Homo sapiens: one gene and its partner. The protein of the gene in region 2 interacts with the protein of the main gene of each other region in a pairwise test. Each region holds a gene or a part of one and is shown on either strand. Other genes may lie near its edges.

Region 1 (7,616 bases), on a different chromosome or scaffold from region 2:
ACTCCCAAAATGAGCCATGGCAGCTCCAGAGACCAGGTGGAGGGGAAATCACCCCACGCTCCCGAGCAGAGAGCTTCGGAGCCAGCCAGCCTCACTGTGCGTGGCCCACAACAGCTGTCTCCATGTGTCACGTGAGGGCTGCCCAACACCAGGTAGGGCAGCAACGCCCACGCCCTCGCCGGGCACAGCCTCCCAGAGGTCACTGCCATGCCGCACTGACCGGAGAGAGGGCAGTGGTGAGAGGTGCATGCCACCCCAGGCTTGTTCCGAAGGCTCCTGGAGGCCACGTCCCCTGAGCTGCTCAGCCTGACTCCAATACTCCACCCCCCAACAGCTCTGCCGTTCCCAGGCGGGTGCCCCCCAGGCTCAGTGCCCTGGACCACTTCTAGCTCGAGGCTCCCACTCACTCTCCAGTGCCTCGGAGGAGCCCATCCCCCTGTGCGAGGGGCAGCACGTCCCTCCCTGGGCCAGGGTGATTCCCAAGTTTACTGGGATGTCTGGAGTTGACTTGGGGAGACAGTGCAGCCCCCAAGCCCCCACCAGCCCTGTGTAAAACTAAGTAGCGCAGCGGACAGGCCAGGAGCAGTGTGGCATCTGAGCATCCGGGAGCCCCAACAGCTCCCTCCTGATGAGGGCAGGAGACACCCTGGAGACCTGCAGCCAAAGTGCTGTCCTTCGCCCTCCCAAGGCCGGGAGCAGCACGGGCTACTCTAGACAGAGCCTGGGGTGAGACCCATCTTTTCTGGACACACTGTCTCCCTAGGCCATCTTCCACAGGAAGGTCCAACTGCAGACACCAACCAGGGGGCCCTTGAGGCTGTACCCCATGGCCAGACACCCCCACAGGCAGGCAGGCCCGGGTGGCTGAGGGGCTTGCAGGACACGGCTGGCCTGGGAGGCTTAAGCGCATCAGGGATGCCGCAGGATTTGGCAGCTGAGATAGGGGTCTGCTGTCTGCCGCACTGGTCCTGACCCCTTGGCCCTGAGCCTGTGGCCTAAGCCAGACAGGAAGGTCACCCACTAGGGCTGGCGGCACGAGTGGCACTCCCTGCCCAGCCCCCAGGAGGGGCTCTTGGGTTCACGACCACTGATGTCCACAGCCTGGCCTGGCACGGGCACCCTCCAGTCATCCCAACAAACGCCCCAACACTGCCCCTGGGCATCTGCCTCACAGCAACAGCCCCACCACCAAGACAGTGCTACTGAGGATCTACAGCTGGCATGGAGTGCGGACGGCTCTCGTCAACTACAGGCAGGGACAGACACACAGGGAGGGTCTGTGGCAAGGGTCAGCTGGGGCCATGGGGTCAAGGAGGCCACGGAGCTCACCATGACATTCACACTTAATCTGAGCCACTCCCTGGGTGCCCCTGGTCCTCGTCGTCACTCTGGCGGCGTGCAGCGCGCAGTGGGGGAGAAGACAGGCTGTCAGGACAGTGCGGGTGGGCGGGTGCCCCGGGCCCAAACCCCCACGCCCGGTGACCTTCCAGTGAGGCCACGCCACGAGGGGACACACAGGCTCAGGGGCTCTGCCACATCTCAGAGGTGGAAACCTCCACGTGTGAGGCGGCTGCATCTTGCGATCCGGGGCTGGTCCTGTCCCACCATGTGCTGAGGGGCTGAACCCTGTCCAGAGGCGCCTGGCCTCTGGCCCCACTCCTGGCAGGCGGCGCTAGCCCACAGATCTCGGCCTGATAGGAGGGCCTCTGCTGCGTGGGCTCTGTGGACCCCACTGCATTGGCCCCACTGCTGCAGGAGGGAGGGTGGGGCCCTGGGTCACAGGAGGGATCAGCCACGGGGGCAGGCGGTGGATGCACCCATCGAGCATGGCTACGCAATGGAGCCCCAACACCACCAAGGAACCCCCTCCTCAGCCGCCCAGGCACTGGGAGACCCCGGCCTCTGCCCAGGTGCCCGCCCTTGCTGATCTGAGCCTGTCTCTCTCTGTTCCTTGGGAATAAATGGCGGCCTTGAGTCTAAGCGCTCTCAGTGAGCTCTGCGAGTCCTTCTAGCAAGTTCTTGAGGGACTGGCGTGGGAAGCAGGTGTGCTCATGTGTGGACCGCCTTCACTTGCTACAGGTGCAACCCCTCCCGCCCCACCACCCAGGCTCTCCCGCCGCCGCTGACTGAAGTGGGGGACAGCTGCCCAGCAGGGCCAGGCCACACATGCTGCAGGGACACCAGCGACGAGGGCCCACAGCCCATGCGGCCCTGCGCAGCCCAGCCAGGGGTGCCCCCATCACGGTCCTCCAGCTCTGGCCCCCGCAATCCCCCACGGCCTCCTGAGGCTCTGGCCTGAGCTCTGCCTCCTGGGGCACTGCTGACACCACCCCCATCAAGAAGCCGCCATAGCTGCCCCACTTCAGAGCAGGTATTTTTGGAAAATGAAATAGGGCCACATTCTCAACCACAAAGGGATTTGGGGTCATGCCTGGAGCTTCCTCACAGTACAGAGCGTGTCCTTTCTGCAGCTGCCAAGCCACCTGAGGGATAGGAGCCCAGGGGAGCTTGGTTATAAAAACTCAGCTCAGAAATAAAAAACTTCTAAAAATAAAACCATTTAGAAAAGAGCCCTACGATTGCTCCAAGAGGAAGAGAAGTGCCTCCTTGTGACTGAGCTGGGGCTCTCAGGGAGCCAGGGGTCGCCTCCTAGATCCGAGACTCAAATGGAAGAGCATCTCCGAGCCTGGCGGTGGAACCCCAGCTTCCACCCCGGCTGTCCCACACCAGGGCCTGCCCCAGCCTACACTGCCTCGGCCTCGAGGAACGGCAGTGGAGCAGGACTGGCCTCTGCCCACAGCAAGAGCACAACGGGTGGCCAGCGAGGGAGGCTCTGGGCCAGGACAGTCGCCTGAGGTGGAAAGGCTGCCGTGAGCTGGCCGCAGGCCTCCGAGAGACATGCTTGGCGGCCCCACCCCTCTGTTCCCAAGGGCATACCTCCAAAGGCCTACTCGGAGAGGCTCACGGGGACAGTCCTGGGCTGCTGGTGGCCGGCCAGAGGCCCCCAGCCAAGAGTCTGCGGTTGCCCAGGTGTCCCTGGTTTAATGCCACCAGTTAAAAGCCTTCCGGTTCTGGCCTCTCATGGCACCCACTCAACACCCTTTGCCAATGCCCCGAGCCTTCGCCCCAGGCTGGCTCCCCACAGAGCCCGCCCCACCACCCAGGCTCTCCCAGACCCACGCAGACCCCAGCCAAGAGCTCTCCAGCCACCACCTGGCTCTGAGGTCCGGGAGTCCTGCCAGGTGCAGCTGGCCCAGGCCAAGGTCAGATTCTGCTTGGATGGACGCATTTGTCCATCTTGGAGCCTCAACCTTAAGAACGTGCTTAGAGGAAATGCCACCAGAATGGGTCACCTGTGGGCAGGGCCACAGGGCCAACCTGAAAGCAAACGAGGCAGGGGTCCCTGCATTTCACCCCAGCTGCCTGCCCCGCAGAAAACAGAAGGGCCTGAGCCCCCGCAGAGTCTGCGCCGGTGCTGCCAGGCTGGGTGCCGCAAAGGGCCTACTCTGTGCAGCCTGAGAATCCCAGGGCCTGCAGGACACCCTCCTCTCGACAAAGATGAGGCCCACGTAGTGGCTGAGCCAGGGTACCCACCCCTGCACTCAGGGATGGCCCAGACCCCCACCACGACAACTGGACCCCCATGTCCCTGCACTCAGGGATGGCCCAGACCCCTATGACAGCCAGGCCTCAGCATCCCAAGTCCTCACTCACACAGCAGAGGCTGGGCCCGGGGAACAGAGGACCCTGGGTCCCCTGAGACACAGCCCTCAGTGGCATTCCTAAGAGCATGGCCCCTGCAGCAGGCCTGGGGCCCCTTCCAGGAGCAGCTCTGCATGCAGGCTGGGAGGCCGCAGGGGCTTACTGGGAGCCTGTGTCGAGAGAACCTGTCCCACGGGAGACCGTGTGTCCAAGAAGTCAGCAAGGCCACCAGGGGCGGACACCGGGAGCTTGATGAGAATGGCAGAAAAGGAGGAAGGTCTGAGAGGGCAAGAGCCTTCCCCACCCAAGACTGCCCCAGGCCAGGGCCGGCCCAGCACTCACCTTGGCCTTCTCGCTGGGCTCGCTGGCCGTACCGTACGGGGTGTTGTGCAGCTCCTTGGACACCACACAGAGGAACTCGGCTTGGTCTTCGTTCCCATAGTTGTAAGAGGAGCCGATGCTGACCAACTGCAAGGAGACATAGCCTGAGACGCAGCCCAGTGAAGCCTGAGAGACCCAGCCAGGCTGACATGACCAGCCTCAGGACGCGCCTGCCACCGCGAAAGCCACAGCAAAGACTGCCGACGCTTCAGGAAATGGATGGAAAACAAATCCCCGGAACACCTGCACGAGCACACGGGGCGGCACCCCACGCCGTGGCATGGCATGGGGCGAGCTCTTCCTCTGTGAGGACCCTGAGCTTTCCTTGGCGCTTCCAGCTGGGCCAAAAGGGGCTGCTGCCCCAGGGGGACGGAGCACAGACGGGTCCCTGAGCTGGGGCGGAGGGAGGGGGGCAGCGGGAGGAGAGTGGAGGGCGGCTCTGAAAACCTGGAGGGAAGAGCCTGGGACCAGCTGACTGGACCGAAAGCCGCTGGAGGAGCTGTGCTGTCCAGGAGTTCGGCCAGGGCGGGTCTGCTGCAGCCTGCTGGCCACACCCTTAGGCCACTCCAACCTGCCTCCCTCCGGGTCACCAGGCAGGCCAGGCCAATGCAGGTCCAGGGCCAACCTGTCTCTCTGGCCAGGCATCTGGCCCATGGCTGGCTACCCTGGGCCACCAGGCACTTCTGTGCTTTTAAAGGGAAAATTAAAAGGCAATACGCAAATCACAATAAGCATGACAGCAGCAGATGACCAAGCCAAAAAGCAGCTGGACGAGGCTCACACTTTGGCCTCTCTAAGACCTGCGCAGTTGGACCAACGGCCGGGAGAGCAGCCCGCAGCTACCTGCTGCTCCTGTATAGCTGGCGGCTGACCCAGTGGGCAGCAGTGGACCCAGCCCAGTGAGGCGGCCACAGGGGTGCCGGCATGGGCCCAAGCAGCTAAGGGTACCCCTGGGAGCACTCACGGCCATGCCCCCCGGAGCCCCTGTGTCCTCACAGCCACTTCCAAGCCCTGCTTGCAATCCCCTGCTGACCACTGGGGACCCTGGGTCCGGTCTGGCCACCTCCCAGCACCCCGCAGGGTCCCACCCCACAGCCGGGACAGCTGGTCAGCCCAGCGGCTTCCCTACATGAACTGGGAGAAGGGGTCCCCAAGGGATGAAGCGTGCCAAGCAGGTCGTAATCAAGGAAGGGGGAGGACACCCGTTCTTTGCAATGGGTTTGGAATCCACCCAGAAGTGCTAAGGTCGAAGACCTGAAGCTGCCCCGGGAGGCAGGTGCCCACCACGGGCAGGAGACATTGTTCCCTCCCAGCCAGAAGTCACAAGACGGTGGCAGAAGAGCACAGGTGCCACATGGGGACAGCCCTGTTCGCGGACCCCGAGCTGCTGACACGGCTTCCCAGGGCCCCAGCCCCACCAAGGGACAACTGGGAGGTGGGGCTCGCCCAGCAGCAAAGATTTCTGTTCCCGTGGGAGGCTCTGGCACGATTCTGATGAGGTGCAGGGCAGGGACCAAGCAGCTGGTCAGCAGCCCTGTCAGCACAGAGACCCAGAGTCACCCCGGCCCCCGGCCTAGGGGTCCAGGGTGGACGGTGGGACACAAATGTTTTTAGTGACATTTTAAGGGGGGGGGGGCTCCAAGTACCCTACAATGTGATCTATTATTTTGAAAGACTCCAAGGAAAAGGTAGCTTTCATTCAGAGGGACACTGGCTGAGCCTGTCACTCCCACAACCTGGCAGGCGCACTGGGCCATGGACAGAACCTGCCCCAGACAGAAGCAAGTGACAGAGGAAACTCAGGACAGGGAGGGCTGGGTGAGGTCACTGTCCCCACCCTCAGTGTCTGTCTAGCACCAGGAACAGTGGCAGCCAGGTCGTGGGCAAGGGCCCCCCGGTCAGAGGCCATGCCTCACGTGTCCTGAGGTCCCCGATGACAAGCCACAATGCCATGGCACAGTGGCCCATGCAGCACTCAGGTGGCTTCCGTGGAAGCTGCTGAAGAAGGCATGCCCTGCACAGACCCATCAGACCCCACCCGCCGCAGCTTGCCAAAACCAGAGAGAAGGCAACGAGGGCCTGGCAGCACCTTCCAGCATGGGCGGGAAGGGGAGGCAGCCTGGGAAAGGCGTCAGGGCCTCCATATGCTCCGATGGAGTGAGCTGTGGGGGACGGGGATTGCGCTGGATAGTGGGCTGGCCAGGAGGCTCTGGGGACGCCAGTCCCCTCCCTCACACAGAGGTGCCAGATGATGCGAAGAAAGCGCAGCGCTGGGAAGAAGAGGCAGGCCAGGGAGGAGGGGAAGGTGCGGGGCAGAGCCTGAGACACCTCTGCCCACCCCACCCGAACTCCCAAGGCTCCTCCAGTGGAAACAGGGCACAGGTCGCTGCCGTGAGCACCCCCAGAACTGCAGGAAGACGCCAGCAGCAAAGTCTGCATTTCCAGGAGCACTGAGCCCTGAGCCATTGTGAGCACAAGTTCAGCTGCAGCATGGCTGCCACCAGGCTGGCCAGGGCCCCTCACCTGCTCGAACTTCCAGCCGTCGGACATGGTGGACACCATCTGCGTGAGCTCCTCCTCCTGGCACTGCAGCACACGGTACACATGCTTCACAGGCACCTGCAAGGACAATGGGCACAGGTAAGGGCGGGCCACCCATGTCCCACTGCTGCCTGTGGCCCCAGCCCAGGTGACCCAGGGAGGCTGAGGTCCACTCTGCAGTTCTCAGCACAGGGCACGAGGCCCAAAGCAATCCTGAGCACATCCACAAAAGCAAAACACGCGGCCCGAACAGCTGCTGTTTTCTGCTTCCTCGTTCGCCTCCAAAAATATTTCTATTTCTAAGTTCCAAAATAAAATGAGTCATGTTCCTGAAATCCCAAGAGCACCTGTGGCTCGACATGACGACACGAGAGCGTCCACGTCTGCTCCGCACGCAGCAACCGTGCAGCCCTGAATTCATCGGTCGGGAAAGGCTCTGGCAAGCAGGGCCCTGAGAGCCAGTGCCAGACGAAGCTCGCTCCCAGCTACCAGAAAAAGGCTCTTGAACTTGCGCGGCAGCCTGGACTTGGGCCTCCCGAAGGCTGAGCTGCTTCCTAAAACTCCATCCACCTCCTAATCCCCCACCTGCCTGGCACGCTTGCTGTGCCCCTCCAGGCAGCTGTGGTCCTGGGAGTGATGGTGAGCCACCAGGGCCGCCCGCCTGCATGGAGCTGCTCCCCAGTGGGCGGGGTGGCCCCACATCCTGGACAGTCACTACGGAGGACTCAGGCTGCAGACGGGGCTGGACGGAAACGCAGCAGTGAGAAGGGGTTCAGAGGTCCTGGGTCCCTGACCTTAAGGTGGTGACTCATGCCAGGGATGCCTGAGTGACAAAGGCACACAGTGGCCTCGAGGTCACATGCCCGAGTTGCTTTATTCTGCAAGACAGTGAGATGCTACTGTGTCACAGCAAGGCTGGACCGCAGACTCTCCCACCTGCACCATTTCCTGCCCACCTGCGTCATACAGGTAGGTAGACTGAGGCAGGGAGT
Region 2 (8,234 bases):
TAGAATGTCAGCTCCACGAGGGCAGGGACTTGGCCTGTCTTGTTCATCACTGTATCCCCTATGCCTGGCACATGGTGGGTGCCCCGTAAATCGTTGCTGAATTGATGGATTCCCAAACACACACAGATTCACTCTTCCCCAGACTGATCCCCTATGGTATTCTCTCACTTCTGCAATTACAGTCCCATCCCAGGTCAATCCTCTCCGCCAGAGCTCTCTTCCTACACAATGTCCCTCCCCAGTGGAAATTCTCATCCTCCTGTCTCCACACTCCCATCTGAGCTGTCTCTCCCAGCACTGGAGCACCCCACAGAGGCTCACCTGAGATGAGGTGCTTCTCCGACAGCATGATCTTGGTGACAGGGCTGCGGTGCACAGTGAAGGTCTGGAAGAGCTGAGGCCCCGAGCCCACAGTCTCCGGGTGCTGCACGATGACCCGCACGCCCCCTGAGCTGGTGCCATAGGCGATCTCGATCCAGTTCCCACTGTCACCTGGTGAGGGGCCAAGGATGAGGAGAGGGCCTGGGCCACAGAGACAGAAACCAGGGCAGGGAGAAAGAAACAGGCACAGAACAGAGACACAGTCAGAAAGCAAGGAGAGGCCGGGCACGGTGGCTCACGCCGTAATCCCATCACTTTGGGAAGCTGAGGCGGGTGGATCGCTTGAGGTCAGGCGTTCAAGACCAGCCTGGCCAACGTGCTGAAACCCTGTCTCTAGTAAAAATACAAAAATTAGCTGGTGGTGGTAGTACGCACCTGTAATCCCAGCTACTCAGAAGGCTGAGGCATGAGAATTGCTTGAACCCAGGAGGCAGAGGTTGCAATGAGCCAAGACCACGCCACTGCACTCCAGCCTGCATGACAGAATGTGACTCTGTCTCAAAAAAAAAAAAAGAAAGAAAGAAAGAAAGAGACACAGAACAGAGACACAGTCAGAAAGCAAGGAGAGAGGGAAGGACACAAAAAGATGGTGATGAGATGTGGGAAATGGAGGAACAGGGAGACAAAGGCACAGGTCAAAGGAGGAGAGGCCCAGAGACAGAAATTGTAACAGTGAAACAGCAAATAAGAGAGGAAAGAGAAAGTAAAACAGAGAACAGAGGCCGAGGCAGGAAGATTGCTTGAGGCCAGGCGTTTGAGGCCAGCCTGGGCAACATAGTGAGACCCTCATCTCTACAAAAGATTTTTAAAAAACTAGTTGGGTGTGATGGCATTCACCTATGATCCCAGCTACTCAAGAGGCTGAAGTAGGAGGATCACTTGAGCCCAGGGGGTGAGGCTGCAGTGAGCTATGATTGCGCCACTGCACTCCAGCCTAGGTGACGAAGCGAGACTGTCTCAAAAAACAAAGAAAAATGACATAATAGTGGCATGTGGCGGGAAGGGAGATGAGGAGGAAATGAGTAAGTAAGTGAAATAAGAAAGAGGCCGGGTGCAGCAGCCCATGCCTGTAATTCCAGCACTTTGGGAGACGACGAGAGGAGAATCCCAGGAGTTCAAAACTTGCTTAGCCAACGTGGCAAAACCCTGCCTCTACTAAAAACACAAAAATTAGCTGGGCATGGTGGCAGGCACCCGTAATCCCAGCTACTTGGGAGGCTGAGTCTGGAGAATTGCTTGAACCCAGGAGGCAGAGGTTGTAGTGAGCTGAGATTGCGCCATTGCACTCCAGCCTGGGTTGAATGACAGAGCGATACTCTGTCTCAGGAAAAGACAAAAAAAAAAAAAAAGAAAGAAAGAAAAAAAAGAAATAAGAAAAGGGCCTTACAAAGAAGAAAGGTGATAATGTGTCATGAAGTTAGGTGTATTATTAACTTATTTCTGCTTTAAAAAAAAAAGAAAAGCAGCAGCAGCAGCTATGGCCAAGCACAGTGACTCAAGTCTGTATTTCCAGCACTTTGGAGGCCAAAGTGTGAGGATCACTTGAGCCCAGGAGTTCAAGAGTAGCCTGGGCAACATGGCAAAACCCTGTCTCTACAAAAAAATACAAAAATTAGACAGGTGTGGTGATGCATGCCTGTGGTTCTGCTGTTCAGGAGGTTGAGGTAGAAGAATCGCTTGAGCCCGAGTGGCGGAGGTGGCAGAGAACTCACATCATGCCACTGCACTCTAGCCTGGGCAACAGAGCAAGACCCTGTCTCTATTTTTTTTTAAAAAAGAATAATCCCTGCTTCACACCATACATAAAATTTAATTTCTGATAGAACAGACTTCCATGTAAAAACTAAACTGTAAATCTTCTAGAAGAAATTCAGGAGAAGATCTTTGTAACCTAGAATAGGTAAGGATATCTTAAGACCCAGAAAACACTAACCATTTAAAAAAATATGCTAAGTGAAAAATGCAGACACAAAAGACCATATAATGTATGATCCCATTTACAGGAATTGTCCAGAACAGGCAAATCCATAGGTATAGGAAGCATATTGAGCCTGGCCAACGTGGCGTAACCCAGTCTCTACTTAAAGTAGAAAAATTAGCCAGGCATGGTGATGCACACCTGTAATCCTCCCCTACTCAGGAAGCTGAGGCATGAGAATCGCTTGAACCCAAGAGGCAGAGATTGCAGTGAGCTGAGATCATGCCACTGCACTCCAGCCTGGGCAGCAGAGCGAGACCTTGTCTCAAACAAAAAGAGAAAGCATATTAGTGATTTCTAGAGGGTATCAGAAGTGAGAAATGTGGAGTTACTGCTAAAGATCAGGGGGTTTCTTACGGGGGTGATGAACATACTCTGGAATTTGTTCATGGTGATAGTTGTACAACCTTGTGAATATACTAAAATCCGCTGAATTGTGCACGTTCAAATGGGAAATTTTATGGTATGAGAATTACGTCTCAAAAATTAACCCATTCTGCATTTGATGTCAAGAAAACAAAACAAAAAACTGTCTCAAGTAAGAGAACTCAGGTTCATCTGCTGTAAAACCTGCATCTGTGTTGTTTTATGAACATGTGAACATCATGCCTTAATCACAAAGGTGGGAAAGAAACACAAAGATTAACTCCTAATGGTCCATTCTGCCCCTAGTGGAGAGGGTGGCCACCATCTAGCACCTAGAACGTGCTTATATACAGGGATACTCAGTAAATATTTGTTGAATGACTGGATGAGAGTTGAATCTGGCTGGGCGCGGTGGCTCACGTCTGTAATCCCAGTACTTTGGGGGGCTGAGGCGGGAGGATCATCTGAGGTCAGGAGTTCAAGACCAGCCTGGCCAACATGGTGAAACCCCATCTCTACTAAAACTACAAAAATTAGCCAGGCGTGGCAGTGGGCGCCTGTAATCCTAGCTACTTGGGAGGCTGAGGCAGGAGAATCGCTTGAACTCAGGAGGTGGAGGTTGCAGTGAGCCAAGATTGCACCACTGCACTCCAGCCTGGGCAACAGAATGAGAGTCTGTCTCAGAAAAAAAAATGAGAGAGAGTTGAATCTGCCGCCCCTCGATAAACCCCTCTGGGTCATGCTACACAAGTTGGGGGACAGCTGCAGGCTGGGGCTGGGGCTGGCAGGTGACAGCAGCAGGGGAAGCCGGGTCATAGCTTACTGGTCTTGGGGGTGAGGTAGACACTGAGGGCGGTGACCCCATCCTCCGCTGGGTCCCGATAGAGCTCGCTGACAAGGAGGTCGTTGTCTTTCATGCGCAAGGGGAACTTCTGCACATCTGGGGTGGGCAGGGAGGGTGGAGCGGGTTTGTTCCAAGTGCCCCAGCCTCTCTCCCTCCCTTCCCCTCTCCCAGGGGAGGGTCTCGGGCACCCGGGACACAGGCTGCTGCTCACCCACGTAGTAAATGGAGCCGTTGTTGCAGCCCAGGAGGAGGAAGGAGCCTGCCGCGTCATAACTGGTGATGGGCTGCACCTCCTGGACCTGGGGGTGGGGCAGGACAGGCTGCAGCCGGGAGCCCTTCCATTCCTTTCCTTCCGTGGTGACCCCTCACAGAGGATGGGCCCTCTCCTCCACCTCCAGAACCCACCCACTGCTCCCCAGCCCCGTCCACCCCAGGCCTGCCTTTGTCCCTGTCTTGTTCCCTCCCTTCCTCCCTTTGATGCATCTGTCTGTCTGACTCTTGGCCTCTCCTGGACTCTGTACTTTTTAAAGTTTTAATTTTTTAAATTTTTTGTAGAGACAGAGTCTTATTATGTTTCCCAGGCTGGCGTCAAACTCCTGGGCTCAAGCCATCCTCTTGCCTCGGCCTCCCAAAGTGCTGGGATTACGGGCGGGAGTCACTGCACCCGGCCTCCACTATGTACTTCTGACATGACTCTAATTCATCTCCATTTATCTCTCTGAGTTCCCCCATCTGCCACAGTGGTTCAGTCTGGTTTGACTCTGTCTACCCTTCTCTGTCACCTCTTTCTGATTTTCTATTTCTATTTGCCTGGTTTTCTGCCTCTCTGTCTCTTTCTCTGCCTCTGTCTGTCTTTCTCCCAAAGCCATCCTCCCACCTCAGCCTCCCAAAGTGCTGGGATTACAAGTGTGAGCCACCGAGCCAAGCCAGTTCTTGTCTTCTACAGCATCCCCCCTAACCTGCTCTCTCACCCAGTCCCAAGACAATCCTCCCTACTCCTTTTCAAACCCATTCATGCTTCATGTGGGCTCTGCAGCACCTCCTCCAGGAAGGCTTCCCTGGTGCTCCTTAGGCCTTTATCACAGACATCCCCAGGCTCTGGCCAGCTGCTGGTTCTCTGGCTTCCTCCAGGCTTAGGGGGTGGGGGTGGGGGCAGACGTGAACCCCTTCCTGGGTCTGTACAGTCTGGAAAACTGGGAAGGGGGCAGCCAGGCTGGCCAGAACTCTGACCTGCCAGTGCTTGGTGACGGCATTCCACACCCCGATGCGCCCTGTGTGGCTTGTAGCAATGAGCTGGTTCCCGACGAAGAACAAGGCCTCCACAGGCACCCCCAGATGAAAGACCCCTGCAGTGGGCAAAAAGGGCTCAGCTGGAACCCTGCCTCATGGAGGAGGAGAGGTGGGAGGAAGAACTCCAAGGACCAGAGGGTTCAGTGGGACCACAGAATCCTTGAAGGATAGAAGATTCCATCAGGGGCTGGGCACAGTGGCTCACACCTGTAATCCCAACACTTTGAGAGGCTCAGGTGGGCGGATCATTTGAGGCCAGGAGTTTGAGACCAGCCTGGCCAACATGATGAAACTCCATCTCTACTAAAAAATATAAAAATTAGCTGAGTGTGGTAGCACACAACTGTAGCCCCAGCTACTTGGGAGGTTGAGGAAGGAGAATTGCGTGACCCCAGGAGGCAGAGGTTGCAGTGAGCCGAGATCATACCACTGTACTCCAATCTGGGCAACAGAGAATGACTCCATTTCAAAAAAAAAAAAAGTGAAGATTCCAGCAGGAATTAGAGAAGATAAAATGGGCCAGAAGATTTCTGATGGGGTATGGGATTCTAAAACGGTCTGGAATTCTAACAGCACTGAGATTTGCAATAAGGCAAAAAAACCTCCACTGGTGGCAGGGGATTCTTACGAGGGCTGAGATTTATTTGGGGACAGATTAATAAGTCCGAGATTTGTTGCTGTGGCTTTGAGACAGGGTCTTGCTCTGTTGTCCAGGCTGGAGTGCAGTGGTGCAATCATGGCTTACATAGCTCACGGCAGCCTCGAACTCCTGGCCTCAAGCAATCCTCCTGCCATGGCCTCCCAAAGTGCTGGAACTACAGATGTGAGTTACTGTGCCCAGCCATAAGTCAGAGATTTCTTTTTTTGTTTTTTTTTTTTTTTTGAGATGGTGTCTCACTCTGTCCACTCTGTCGCTCAGGCTGGAATGCAGTGGTGCGATCTCAGCTCACTGCAACATCTGCCTCCCAGGTTCCAGTGATTCTCCTGCCTTAACCTCCTGAGTAGCTGGGATTACAGGCACGTGCCACCACACCCAGCTAATTTTTTTGTATTTTTGAAATAAAGACTGGGTTTCACCCTGTTGGCCAAGGGGGTCTCGAACTCCTGACCTCAAGTGATCTGCCCGCCTCAGCCTCCCAAAGTGCTGGGATTACAAGCATGAGCCACCGCACCGGGCCAAGTCAGACATTTCTCATGGCCACACAGAATAGCGCATTCTAACAAAACCAAGAGATCTAACAGGGCAGGGAATTCTGATGGAGGGAGAATTGTATGTGGGTGGATTTTTCTAGGAAGCCAGGGAATTCTAACAGGATACAGAATTCTGAAGGGCTGGAGCATTCTAATGACACAAACAGATCTAATAGAGCAGAGAATTCTTATGGGTTTGAGGATTTTATGGGGTGGGTCATTTTAACAGGCAGTAGAATTTAAAGGACAGAGGGTTCTGGAAAAGGCTTGGGGTCATACCTATCTCGGAGCCACCGCCTTCCGCCTGCAGAGCCCATAGCAGGATCTCGCTGCCGGTGGCTGCTGCCACCATCTTGTCATGTTCACCCAAAGCCCCACCATGCACCCGGGCTGTGAGCGCCAGTCGTTCGATGGGCCAGTCCAGGCGGGGGCTGGAAAACACCAGCTGCCAGCCAGAGGCTTCCTTCAACCTGTAGGATCGAGGGGACATCACCAACCCTCACCGCATGCCCTTCCCATCAACAGGGCTGGGACCTCCTGCCACTCCCTCCCCAAGCACCTGTAGCAGACTAGAAACTGGGTATAGGCCACAGCGATCCAATTATGGTGTCCACACACCAGGCGCACCATCCCCGGCTCCTCAGGTTGTCCTTGAGGGGAAGAGTAGGGATCAGAAGAGGGTCACAGGGACCCCACAGCTGCCCCAACCTTCCACGAGATAGAAACGTACCTGAGGGTGAGGGAGGGGTTTTCTCATCCAGCATTCGGCCCAGCAGCCCTGCATTGCCAAGGTTGGGGGGCATCGTGTTGCTCCGTCGGACAGGGGCTGGCCGTCCTCCTAGCTGCTGAGGCCCCACTAGGCTGTGCCGGTTCCGCCGCTTCACTGGGAACACTACAGTGAGAATAAGAGGTAGAGTAACAGTCATTGTAATCGTGGCTGTCACACAGCAAGCACTTAAAATATGACGGTGATTGATTTCCCCATGTGTGGGACATAGTCTCCGGGTGAAGATTTTAAGTGGTGCAGTGACACAGCATGAAATGACACTGAACCACATAGCAAGTTACTTCCCTTTCAGTTCCCTTGAGCCCAGCACAGAGGAAGACTGAGTTTAGTGCTGCTGTGATATTAATGAATCTGCAGTATTACCTAATTTTCCGTTTTTTTTTTTTTTTTTTTTTTTGAGTTGGAGTTTCGCTCGTTGCACAGGCTGGAGTGCAATGGCACAATCTTGGCTCACTGCAACCTCTGCCTCCTGGGTTCAAGTGATTCTCCTGCCTCAGCCTCCCAAGTAGCTGAGATTACAAGCACCCACCACGACACATGGCTAATCTTTTATATTTTTGGCAGAGATAAGGTTTCACCATGTTGGCCAGGCTGGTCTCGAACTCCTGACCTCAGGTGATCCACCCACCTCAGCCTCCCAAAGTGCTGGGATTACAGGCATGAGCCAATGTGCCTGGCCCTAATTTTCACTTTTAATAAATGGAAGACTGCACCCTTGGCAAGCAATAGCATCTAGCCAGAGTTGTTTTTCGTTTTGTTTTGTTTTGAGACAGCATCTCGCTCTGTCACCCAGGCTGGGGTGTAATGAGTGATCATAGTTCACTGCAGCCTTGACCTCCTGGGCTCAAGCGATCCTCGCACTCCAGCATCCTAAGTAGCTGGGACCACAGGTGCATACCACCACACCTGGCTAATTTTTTTTTATTTTTAGTAGAGATGAGGTCTTGCTGTGTCACCTGGGCTGGTCTCAAACTCCAGGTCTCAAGTAATCCACCTGTCTCGGCCTCCAAACTGCTAGGATTACAGGTGTGAGCCACTGCTACAGGCCAGAGTTTAATAACACTGCTATGTTTGGGTTTTATTTTCATGTTTACTTTGTATTTATAATATAAAGCTTGCATTTAAAATGATTATTATTTTTTTAATTAGCCGGGCATGGTGGCGAGTGCTTGTAGTCTCAGCTACTCAGTGGCAGAGCTGAGGTGGAAGGATGGCTTGAATCTGAGAGGCAGAGGTTGCAGTGAGCCAAGATCGCACCACTGCACTCCAGCCTGGGTGACAAAGCCAGACCCTGTCTCATAAAATTAAATAAATAAATAAATAAATAAATGATTGTTTTTCGGAAAACAGGATAAAACTAAGTTGGAAAAGTACTACTACAGATCTTTATATCTGGC

Evidence for each region.
Region 1: the proteins of SHKBP1 (region 2) and KCTD5 come close enough for resonance energy transfer, tested with the Homo sapiens proteins (one study listed by BioGRID).

What each region holds. Positions count from the first base shown.
Region 1 is NC_000016.10:2,698,907-2,706,522, reverse strand, and holds part of KCTD5 (BTB/POZ domain-containing protein KCTD5), read right to left. Parts: intron 6,703-7,616; coding exon 6,607-6,702; intron 4,171-6,606; coding exon 4,045-4,170; intron 1-4,044. UniProt on the Homo sapiens protein: Its interaction with CUL3 suggests that it may act as a substrate adapter in some E3 ligase complex. Does not affect the function of Kv channel Kv2.1/KCNB1, Kv1.2/KCNA2, Kv4.2/KCND2 and Kv3.4/KCNC4.
Region 2 is NC_000019.10:40,579,032-40,587,265, reverse strand, and holds part of SHKBP1 (SH3KBP1-binding protein 1), read right to left. Parts: intron 6,943-8,234; coding exon 6,781-6,942; intron 6,701-6,780; coding exon 6,610-6,700; intron 6,521-6,609; coding exon 6,330-6,520; intron 4,916-6,329; coding exon 4,800-4,915; intron 3,869-4,799; coding exon 3,781-3,868; intron 3,666-3,780; coding exon 3,549-3,665; intron 523-3,548; coding exon of another isoform or gene 493-522; coding exon 322-492; intron 1-321.